Linked DNA regions of Homo sapiens: region 1 is linked to region 2. Evidence: fine-mapped expression QTL. A gene starts in region 2. The other region holds a variant in brackets. All regions are shown on one strand. Distances are between the middles of the regions. Region 1 has its middle 63 kb from the start of P2RY1. Region 2 holds the start of P2RY1 (purinergic receptor P2Y1).

Evidence for each region. PIP is the estimated chance that this variant, and not a neighbour inherited with it, causes the effect.
Region 1: its variant is the best candidate, but not a certain one, in a credible set for the expression of P2RY1 in whole blood (TOPMed, PIP 0.76).

Annotation. Positions count from the first base shown.
Region 1 is chr3:152,895,771-152,901,298 of GRCh38, reverse strand. No RefSeq gene overlaps it. Among named protein-coding and RNA genes, the nearest start is that of P2RY1, 63 kb to the right of the region's middle. The variant A/G (reference allele first, on the strand shown) is at 3,220.
Region 2 is chr3:152,832,750-152,837,749 of GRCh38, reverse strand. It overlaps P2RY1 (purinergic receptor P2Y1), which reads right to left and starts at 2,619. Exons shown (of 1, transcript NM_002563.5): 1 at 1-2,619. The coding sequence starts at 1,967. The coding sequence ends at 846. RefSeq lists silencers at 1,656-1,950, 2,663-2,712 and an enhancer at 2,383-2,482.

The sequences.
Region 1 (5,528 bases), 63 kb before region 2:
TCAGTTATATAATTTCCATTTGAGTCTTTTTTATATATTTAATTTGATTTCTTTGCAAGATTTTTTATTTTTCATTTGTTTCCAGGGAGTTTTGATTTCTCATTGAAACAATTTTATGGTGGCTGCTTTAAAATAGTTTTCATCAATCTCCAAAATCTGATTCCTTTCCATATTGGCCTCAGAGATGGAGAGCAATACTCCTGGCCCATCCTGTAGCCATCCAGTTCTGGCAGGCTTTCTACTCTATCTCAACAGTGCCACTGGGAGACAAAAGCACCTGTCTAGGATGCCTTCTATCACTGGGTGCAGGGCCAGGAGTACCTGGAGCTGTGGGTTCTGGGTTGCCTTTTGCTGTTGAGTGGAAGGCTATCCTAGATCATTTTCTGTTGCCAGGTGGAGGGCAAGAAAACACAGGATTTGATTGCCTTCTGTCATTGGGTAGAGAGCCAGGAAATGCCTGGCCTAGGTTTTATTCTGCTGTTGGGTGGAGAGCTGGAAATCACTGAGTCTGGATGGCTCTCTGTATTGGATGGTGGGCCTGAAGATAGTGGCCCTGAGTTACCTTCTGCCACTGGATGGAGGGCCAAGGGACACCAGACCTCCTAAGTGCCACCAGTGCAAGTGGAAGGGCCTGTTGCTGCCAGCAAGAATGGGACATGGATTGGACAGATATATTTTAGTACCACTGATTAAACTATATTTTTCCCAGTCACTTAATCCTAGACTCTTTTCTCAGTGCTATTCTTCCTAGATTTACTTCCTATTTATTAAGGTGACATTCTATTTATTAAGGTAATTTCTATTGAGTCTCATCTACTCCATTTTCTATTTATTCTACTAGTTAGTGTCATTTTGATGCTATTTCATGTAGTCTTCATCGCCCATTAACAATATTGGCATTATAAGAAATGAGGAAATACTGAAGGAAAGCACAACCAATACTAGATATTAAATTAGCAAATTAATATTAAAGAGAAAAGTGTGTACTTTGAATATATTATAAGAACAATAAATTTAGTGACTAGACTTTTTGTTATGACAGAAAGCAGAAAACTAATTGTTCCAATAAGACAGCTCTACCAACTCTAGCTTTTTCATCCCTCAAACTAGTTTAATTATTAAAGCCATTATTGGTTCCAGAAACTTAAAACTTGACCAAAGGTTTAATAATTTATTTAATATATTAATTCAACAAATATTAATATATTACCTGTCATTTGCTTAGGTGATAATCTGCTTTAAGAAAGATATGGGGCTGGGTGCAGTGGCTTACACCTGTAATCCCAGCACTTTGGGAGGCCGAGGCGGGTGAATCACCTGAGGTCAGGAGTTCGAGACCAACCTAGCCAACATGGTGAAACCCCATCTATATTAAAAATGCAAAAAATTAGCTGGGCATGGTGGTACTTGCCTGTAGTCCCAGCTACTTGGGAGGCTGAGGTAGGAGAATCACCTGAACCTGGGAGGCGGAGGTTGCAGTGAGCTGAGATTGCACCACTGCACTCCAGCCTGTGTGACAGAGTGAGGCTCCATCTCAAAAAAAAAAAAAAAAAAAAAGAAAAGAAAAAGAAAAAGAAAGAAAGAAAGAAAAATTTTCCTTTTTATGGAATAAGTCTGACTATTCATTCTGTTTTCCTATATTATCCTCTCATGTGTTCCCTTGATAGAGTAAACCACCTGCTTAGCCTTAATAAATCCTCTATAAAACTATGGCATCTCAGTTTCTTTCCTAACAAAAAAACCGATGTCTAGTGCTTCAGCATTGGTGCCAAAGTGGCAGGTGTCTTGGAAGTGCCCAGGGAGACTTGCTGACAGCTGGAGGGCTATGGGTAATAAACACAGCCAAGCCTGCTTTCTCAAGATCTTTGAATTAGGGAAGCAGGAGGGCGTATTACAGCAATTACCTAGCCATGCCAACATTTGCACACTACTATTAATATTTCATTACCACTCCCCTTGATATTTTGACTTTACCTGTAGCAACTGTTGTTTAATCTGAATTATTACTTATAAAATTGATAAGACTTTATTATTAATAAGTAGCACTCACACTTATACTTCAGAGAAAGTTCTGAGGTATCTTTAAAATATCACACATTTCTTAACCCTGGAGGACCTCTGTTCAATTGAAATACTGTAACATTTAATGTATTTAATAACAGCCCAGATTTTCACATCAAACGATTCTGGATATATGATATTTGCTATATAATAGGTCATTGTGCAGTATTTATTTATATGTTTTAAAAATGGTAATTGACTGGGACGAAATCACTGATCAGTCAAGATACAGAGTTTGTAGCTTCCATGAATTTCTTGGACTACCCAGGACTGGGTGTTCCTGGAATATTAACATATCATATTTTCTGTTCTTTTTGAGGCTCATAAGCCAAGGCTGGCATCTTTTGTGGCAGGTCTTGGAGCACTGTGCAGTCAGACCAACACCAACAGCAACAACATACTGAGCTGCAATCTATGGCAGCCTCAGCACCATAGTCCCTGGGTCCTCTCTCTTCAAGCTGATTCTTCAGACTCAGATTTTGAAGGAAAATTTTCGAAGGAAAACCAATTAATTGCATCTGTGTCTCTCGTTTTTTTCTTTCTCACTGCCACCAGACTCAACCAGTCCAGATATATATAAGTAGATTCCAACCACAATAGGGAAACCAAGGCTAAGTGTCTAACTAGGTCCACTCACAAGAAACCAAGGAATCAAAGTAAGCTATTATTGAGCTTGGGCCTTAGAGCACAAAGAATGCATGGGATAGAAGCTGACAAACTTTGTGGTTGGCCTATGAGTGTTCACCTTCTATAAGCATTCACCTATGTGGATTTCTTTTTTTTTTCTGTGTTCCCCTAAGATTCTTTAAGTAGGTCAGTCACTTCCATGCTGGTGGGTATTGCCTTGGAGTGGGAGGACTAAATTAGTTGTTAATAAGCCCCTCAAGTGATAGGCCAAAATCTAGAAAACTCAGAGACCCACAAGGGCTAGCCAGATAATTAATGCTGGCTTGGTGGCAATTCTGGTGAACCCCAAAGCACAATGTGTCAATCTAAAAAGAGTACCTGCTCCTAAGATGTCCAACCATCCTGGTTTGCCTATAACTGAGGGGTTTTTCAGGAAGTAGGACTCTCAGTGCTAAAACTGGAAAACTCCCAGGAAAAAATGAGATGAAAATTGGCCACCCTAGCTCCTACTCAACATAGCCAATTTTTGCT[A/G]TATTTGAACTTCTTTCCTTCTTTCTATCCTTCTTTTCTTTCACATGCAAAAGCCCCTGTTTCTTAAGTTTGAGAATTAATTCAAATAAAAAATAGTTTACAGATTAAAACACAACCCATATTTGGCTCATGGGCTCCAAGTTTGTAATACATTTTTAAAGAGAAGACAGTGTATGCCTAAGGGAAAGACTTAAGTAGATGGCCTTGGTTTCCTTTTAGTCTGGGTTTTAAACCTTAGTCAAAAATGAGCCATTATGGCTCATTTATTCATCCTGTTTCACAAATAGTAGTGGTTGCACATAAGCTTTAGTAATTTACTGATGAAACCTAAGTTAGTTATAAATGATGTCATTTTAGTTATTTTCTTGGTCCTTGTTATCTACATATACTCTCCTTGGGAGTACTCCAGTGGCGTTTGTGAGAAAATAGGATTCCTCTATTTGGCCATGGAAAACCCTTTCCATGGTGAAGTGCTCAGGACAACTAATATTGCAATTATCACAATGCTCTCTTGTTTCTCTTGCCTTCCATTGCTAACCTTGTCATTCTTTCCATTATACCTTCTGGAGTTGACTTAATTCATCAGAGACAATCGCTTTACATTCTCAGCTTCTTCAAAGACCACGTTCTCTGCCTGCTTGCCATAAATAAGTTAATAAATATAAAAATGCTCCAAGTATTTTTATACTAAGTTAGTTGTAAATGATATCATTTTAGTTATTTTCTTGGTCCTTGTTTTATATATATATATATATATATATATATATATATATATATATATATATATATATATATACTCTCCTTGGGAGTACACCAGTGGTGTTTGTGAGAAAATAGGATTCCCCTATTTGGCCATGGAAAACCCTTTCCATGGTGAAGTGCTCAAGACAACTAATACTGTAATTATCACAATGCTCTCTTGTTTCTCTTGCCTTCCCTTGCTAACCTTGTCATTCTTTCCATTATACCTTCTGGAGTTTACTTAATTCATCAGAGACAACCCCTTTACATTCTCAGCTTCTTCACAGACCCTCTTCTCTGCCTGCTTGCCATAAATAAGTTAATAAATATAAAAATGCTCCAAGTATTTTTATATGGATGAATTAAGTAAACTGCAGAAGGTATAATGGAAAGCAAGGTGGCACATGTCTGTAGTCCCAGCTGTTTGTGAGGCTGAGGCAGGAGACTTGCTTGAACCCAGGAGGCGGAGGTTGCAGTGACGCGAGATCGCACCACTGCACTCCAGCCTGGGCGACACAGCAAGACTCCATCTCATAAATGAACAAACAAAAAAAACTTGGAGCAGTACCTAGAAAGTAAGTGTCAAAAAACATTGTTATTATTATCATAATCATTATTAACTGAAACCTGGCTCTGCCTAAAAAGCACAACTTTCTTTGCAATCCTCTCAAGGAAGCTTTGCCATTTCTTCTTAATGTCTGAATTTTCCAAAGTATGCAGAAGAGGATTGTACTCTCCCAGCTACCCACTGCTGTTGGCAGGCAATTATTTGCTTATCCTCCAGCAGAAACTTATGTTTGAGACTCCTACCATCAGTTTGAGCCCTGTCTTACTCTTCTTCTTCAGCTTGGTCACAATCTCACAATCACTGAGGGCTTTAGGTCTGCCTCAAGGTTTTCCTCCATGCTGATTCCTCCATGCTGATTTCAGAATCTTAAAGAGGCTTCGTGGCCATGTGAACAAGCCATTAATGAATGCCTCCTGCTTTCTTTATCTACTGACTTACTGTGTGCTCTTCCATTTTCATCATTAGGAAACTCTGAAATCCTAAACTTCAATTTTCCATTCTCGGACCACATCTCCATTTTAAATCTCCTCCTTTTCAAAAAGCATTTGAGCCCTTTCTATTTCAGTACCACCTCCCTCCCAGCCTTATCCTTCATAGAGGAAATTGAAACTGCCATATAGAATCAGCCTTACTTTTCCCTTCTTACCTAAAAACTTAGGTATCTGTCTCCACTACCGCCTGGCTCAGAGGAAGGGAAGCCATGACCTCACTCACTGGTGGTAAACCCTACCACTTGTGTTCTTAGTCTAATCTCTTCCTATCTCTTCAGAAAAATTCCAGACCATCTATCTCCATCTCTCATTCTAAGTCCTGGCTCCTTGTTGCTTGCCTATGAACCCACTCAAGTCTCTTCCATCTCAAAAAGAAAAAGAAACACTTCTTTAGAATCTCCAGCTAGCACCTTTCTCTTCTCATACCTCCAGACCATAGTTCTTCAAATAATCTGCTCTCAATGTCTAGCTTCCTCACTTTCCATCCCCTCTTAAACATTTTGTACTTG
Region 2 (5,000 bases):
CCTGGAACACAAACAAAGTCCTAAGGCATTGCACAGCAGTGGGGCAAGTAAATGCTCTTTATCACAAGATGTCTAAGAGAGCTCATGGTGTTTACAAGGAAAATACATGCACTTTAATTATTTTGAATGCATTTTACCAGTACGATAATATATGCAGGCTTTCCCCATCAAACATTTAGCACCCAATATATAATGAGACCTTTTCCAGAAATAACTGGAAAACAATCACTTTTCAGGCTTTTAAATTCATTAGCTTTACTTGTCTATTCAATGCCCTAAAGAAACTCAGTCAACTATCATCTATGCTTATAAGACACTGAAAAAAACACCCCGCTCAGAGATCCATTGATCTGATGCCGGATGAACTGATGAGTTTAGTGTTTTGTTATATACCATGCTAGATATTTCTGAGAATATAGATTTTTTATTCCTACTGTGGATTTTAAAAAAACAATAAAGGCTAGATAAACCACAAACTCAAGTTGCAGGGGGCTAGTTTTCTTAGAGAAATTACTAATATCAAAAACAGCCCCAGTACTCATGTGCACACACACTTTAAACAGAAAAGCCTGCACATTTTAAAGGCAAAAGAGAAAGTAAATGTTTAACTAGGTAGTATTGTTTTATTATACATACTTCTAGTCAGAAGGAAGAGAGACTGTGAAAGCAAACCCAAACAAGCTAAGTGTGGATGTGGGCATTTCTACTTCTATTATTTTTTTAACTCACTATTTTCTTGGTTTGATTTTTTTCTAAACTAGAAAGTTAAAGAGGGGAAAAGTACTTGATTCTGTTAAGCATCCTACCATATTACAACAGAGAGGTGTTTGGAGATTCTTGTGCCTTCACAGGCTTGTATCTCCATTCTGCTTGAACTCAGGTAAAATATTGAGGGTCATGTCTTCACTCTTGGATTGCAAATTTGCCTCACTTCTTCTAGAAGCTTTCCTTGTGGCTCGGGAGAGTCTCCTTCTGAAAGTATCTCCCGCCAAGAAATAGAGAATGGGGTCCACACAACTGTTGAGACTTGCTAGACCTCTTGTCACCTGATACGTGGCATAAACCCTGTCATTGAAAGCACACATTGCTGGGGTCTGAAAATCAAGCCGGGCCCTCAAGTTCATCGTTTTCATCACATGGAAAGGGATGTAAGACACAGCAAAAACAGTCAGTACAATGATTACCAGGTAAATCGATTTTCTCCTCAGAGGAGAGTTGTCCAGATCTTTGTAAATCAAAGCTCTCACAATTAATCCGTAACAGCCCAGAATCAGCACCAAGGGGACACAGAACATGGCCACGGTCGTGCACATGCTGTAGATGAAATAACTTCGCAGGTACTCGTCTGAGGTGGTGTCGTAACAGGTGATGGTTTTGTTTTTGCGGACCCCGGTACCTGAGTAGAAGAGGATGGGGGAGATCGCCACCACCACAATGAGCCACACCAGCACGCTGATACAGATCGCATTCTTCTTTTTGAGCCGGCCCAGGGACTTGAGGGGGTACACCACACCGCTGTACCGGTGGGCACTGATGCATGTCAGAAACAAGATGCTGCCATAGAGGTTCACATGAAAGATGAACCTCTGCAGTTTACACATGGCATCCCCGAAGATCCAGTCTGTTTTATTGAAGTAGTAGAAGATCAGGGCTGGCAGAGTCAGCACGTACAAGAAGTCGGCCAGAGCCAAATTGAACATGTACACGGAGATGCCGCTCCAGGGCTTCATGTGGAAGACGAACATCCAGATGGCCACGCTGTTGCCCAGGAAGCCGATGATGAATACCAAGATGTAGACAGCCGGCAGGTAGTAAAACTGGAAGCCCGTCTTGGTCAAGGCGCATTTGAACGACGAGGAGACGGCGGCAGTGGAGGCGACCGTGCTGTTCCCCCAGGACGAACCCGGACCGGCCAGGAAGGCAGCGTCCGTCCCGTTGGGGACAGCCGGCCACAGCACCTCGGTCATTCTCTCCTCCTCGACTTAGGCGGCGGCTCCGAGGGGTAGGAGGCGGCGAGAGGGCAGCGGCGGCCAGGGGCGCAGCAAGCATCGGAAAAGCCAGCGAGCGGAAGGGAGCAGGCGAACTGGATCCCCGCGGGAGGGGGCGCGCAGGGGCTCGCCCACGCCAGCTCTGGCCCCGCGTTCGCCGCGGGCCATGAAATCCGCCCCGGGCCGCCACCGAACTGGGCTATCGGGCAAGCCAGCAACTTCTCCGTCCGCTGGCAACGCCGAGCTTACACAACAGGGCGCGCAGGGAACCGCCGCGGATAACTTTCCGACTGCGCTTTCCCGAGGGGCCGCGGGTCCGCGCTGCAGAGCGCGCCAGAGGCGCAGCGAGGTCAAGGGAAACTCGCTCTGCAGGGCTCTAGCTTGGGGAGGCTGCTCCCCAGCCTCCTTGGCTCAAAGATCAACTTAATTGGGGGCATCTTCCTCCTCCCTACCTTAGAAACGTGCAGCTCAGTTTCGGGGCGTCTAACCGCTTCCTCCGCCCACCCTGAGCTCAGCTCCTGGCAGCCATCGGAGCGCGCGTGGCCGCAGACTCGTGCGCTTCTGCAGCGCGTCCCGTTCGGCGTCCGCGTAGTTCAGGAACCCCTTCCCCAGGCCCAGCTCTGTCCGGAGTGCCGGGGTTAGGCGGGAGAGCGGAGCTCCCTAGAGGGTGGGCGGAGTTTGGGCACCGGGGCGAGTCCGCACTCCGCGGGGAGGCGAGGGGCGTGCCTCCGCCGAGCTCGCCCAGCAGCCAGCCCGCGTCCTCCAGGGCGCAGTGGGAAGCAGGAGGCGTCTTCTGGGGAGCAGGTCTCCGCCGAGGCCGAGTGTGTTCAGCCTCTGCCGGCACGCTGCTACCGGAGTCGGCGGCGAGGGAGAGGGGTGCGCTCCAAGGTGGCTGCTGGCAGGCGATTGGCCCGCGAGCGCTCCTTCCCTCTTCCGCCAGCTATCTCGGCAAAGTGAAGTTGCTGACACACAGGAAACCCTTCCGACCGCTTAGAGCCTTCTGCCTACAACCCCAGAGCCGACCAGTCCGTAGCAGGAGCCTCTAGGGCCCTCGAGAACCACGCCAGGTGTTTTCAAGCTCCAAGCAGCCAGGAGTCCCTAGCTGGGAACGCCTGTCATTGCAGAGCGTCTAGCTTTGCCGGGACCGGATTTCTGGCACATGCAGGAACCTGCTATTCCAAGAGGGCGCGAGCCTCCAAAGGAATGAGGGTTGGGAGAGGAGTGGAGAACTCTGTTTCGCCCTTCTTACCTTTTTTTTTCTTTTTTTTAAATTCTAGTACTGTTTTTTCTTAATTACCCAAATGCTAATAAACCCACGTCATTAATAACATCAACGTGAGAATTTCCAAAATAGTCTTGTGAAGATATTACTAGTCCATATTGCACATTGCTTCAGCTCAAATTTGTCGTCATAGATACTTAACACCTATCAGACAAGACAAGCTCCCCAAATCCTCCTGTTCAGTACATTTAAAGATCAGAAGCTACAATGAAAAAAAAAAATTCGAAATTTATCCCTTTGAAAGTAATTTGAATGCCAAATGCAATACATTTATATTGATAGACGTAAAAGACGGTTATAATTCCAAAGTGACTAAGGTATGGTTTTGGTAGGGGGTGGCGGGGGGAGGGGGGTATTTCCAATTCTATTTCTTTAAGTTAAAGTGATTAGTTACAATTACCTCTAGTATCTTAAAAATACAGACTTGGGACTTCCTTAATTACTACATTTACTGACAAACTCGTTTTCTTGCCTTGAATGTAAATTTTAAGCAATGCACTTCAAAAATGTATTTGAGCAAGTTTAATTGGAAACTAAATGAAATATTAGCTGTTCAGGAACATATATAAATGGACCCGCACAAGAATGGAATCTAGCACTTCTTGACAAGTTACTAGTTAATGTATTTTTACATGACACATTAACAAAAGCTTTTCTCTTAGAGGAAAAAAAATCCAAAAAGAAAATATCTGTAAAATATATAACATCAAGATTTCTTTCTGGTCCCAGATGCTACATGATAGTGTTCCCTTAAAAAATAAAGGAAAACCACGAGCTCCTGGCTTTGATACCACAAAGGAAAATATCCCCCACAAGATCCAGATGGTTCTTTAGAGGAACACATATAGGAAGGAGCATATCTTAGCACATGGTATGAATACACTGGGTTTTGAATTGTAGTCAATTGAACAGCATAAAAATTAATAATAAAACAAGAGTAAATAATTCAAGTAAACAGTGTGAATGAGGTTGTCTTGAAAAGTCTTACTTTTTGTGTTTCCTTCCAATCTCCTGATTATATGAGTCTATGATTCTGAGCCTTAACATGAAACATTTGTGTATTGTTTGATTAGTATGGTCCTAGGTGGGATGATTGTCTATTAAGAGAGAAAAGGAAGCAAAGAAAACCATTAAGGGTTCCAGGGGTACTCAATAGGTCTTAAGTCCTCACTCCTTTGCATTTTTTATTTGCAACCTAGGCAATATCTGACTTCACTCAGAAGTTTGTTGCAAATGCATTAACTCATAATGTGAGTGTTTTGAAATGTACACTTAGTCCAGATACCATTAAGTACTTGCAGAAAACTGACACCTTACTAGGAATTGGGGGATAGTTGTTTTAAGTGCACCACAGACTTTTTAAAAAATGATGTTAAAAAATAAATTTTGGGCTGGGCGCTGTGGCTCACGCCTGTAATCCCAACACTTTAGGAGGCCGAGGTGGGCAGATCACGAGGTCAGGAGATGGAGACCATCCTGGCTAACACGGTGAAACCCCCTCTGTACTAAAAATACAAAAAATTAGCCGGGTGTGGTGGCGGGCACCTGTAGTCCCAGCTACTCGGGAGGCTGAGGCAGAAGAATGGTGTGAACACAGAAGGCGGAGCTTGCAGTGAGCTGAGATCGAGCCACTGCACTCCAGCCTGGGCGACAGAGTGAGACTCCGTCTCAAAATAAATAAATAAATAAATAAATAAATAAACAAACTTTGTAAGCATTGCTTTTGCATT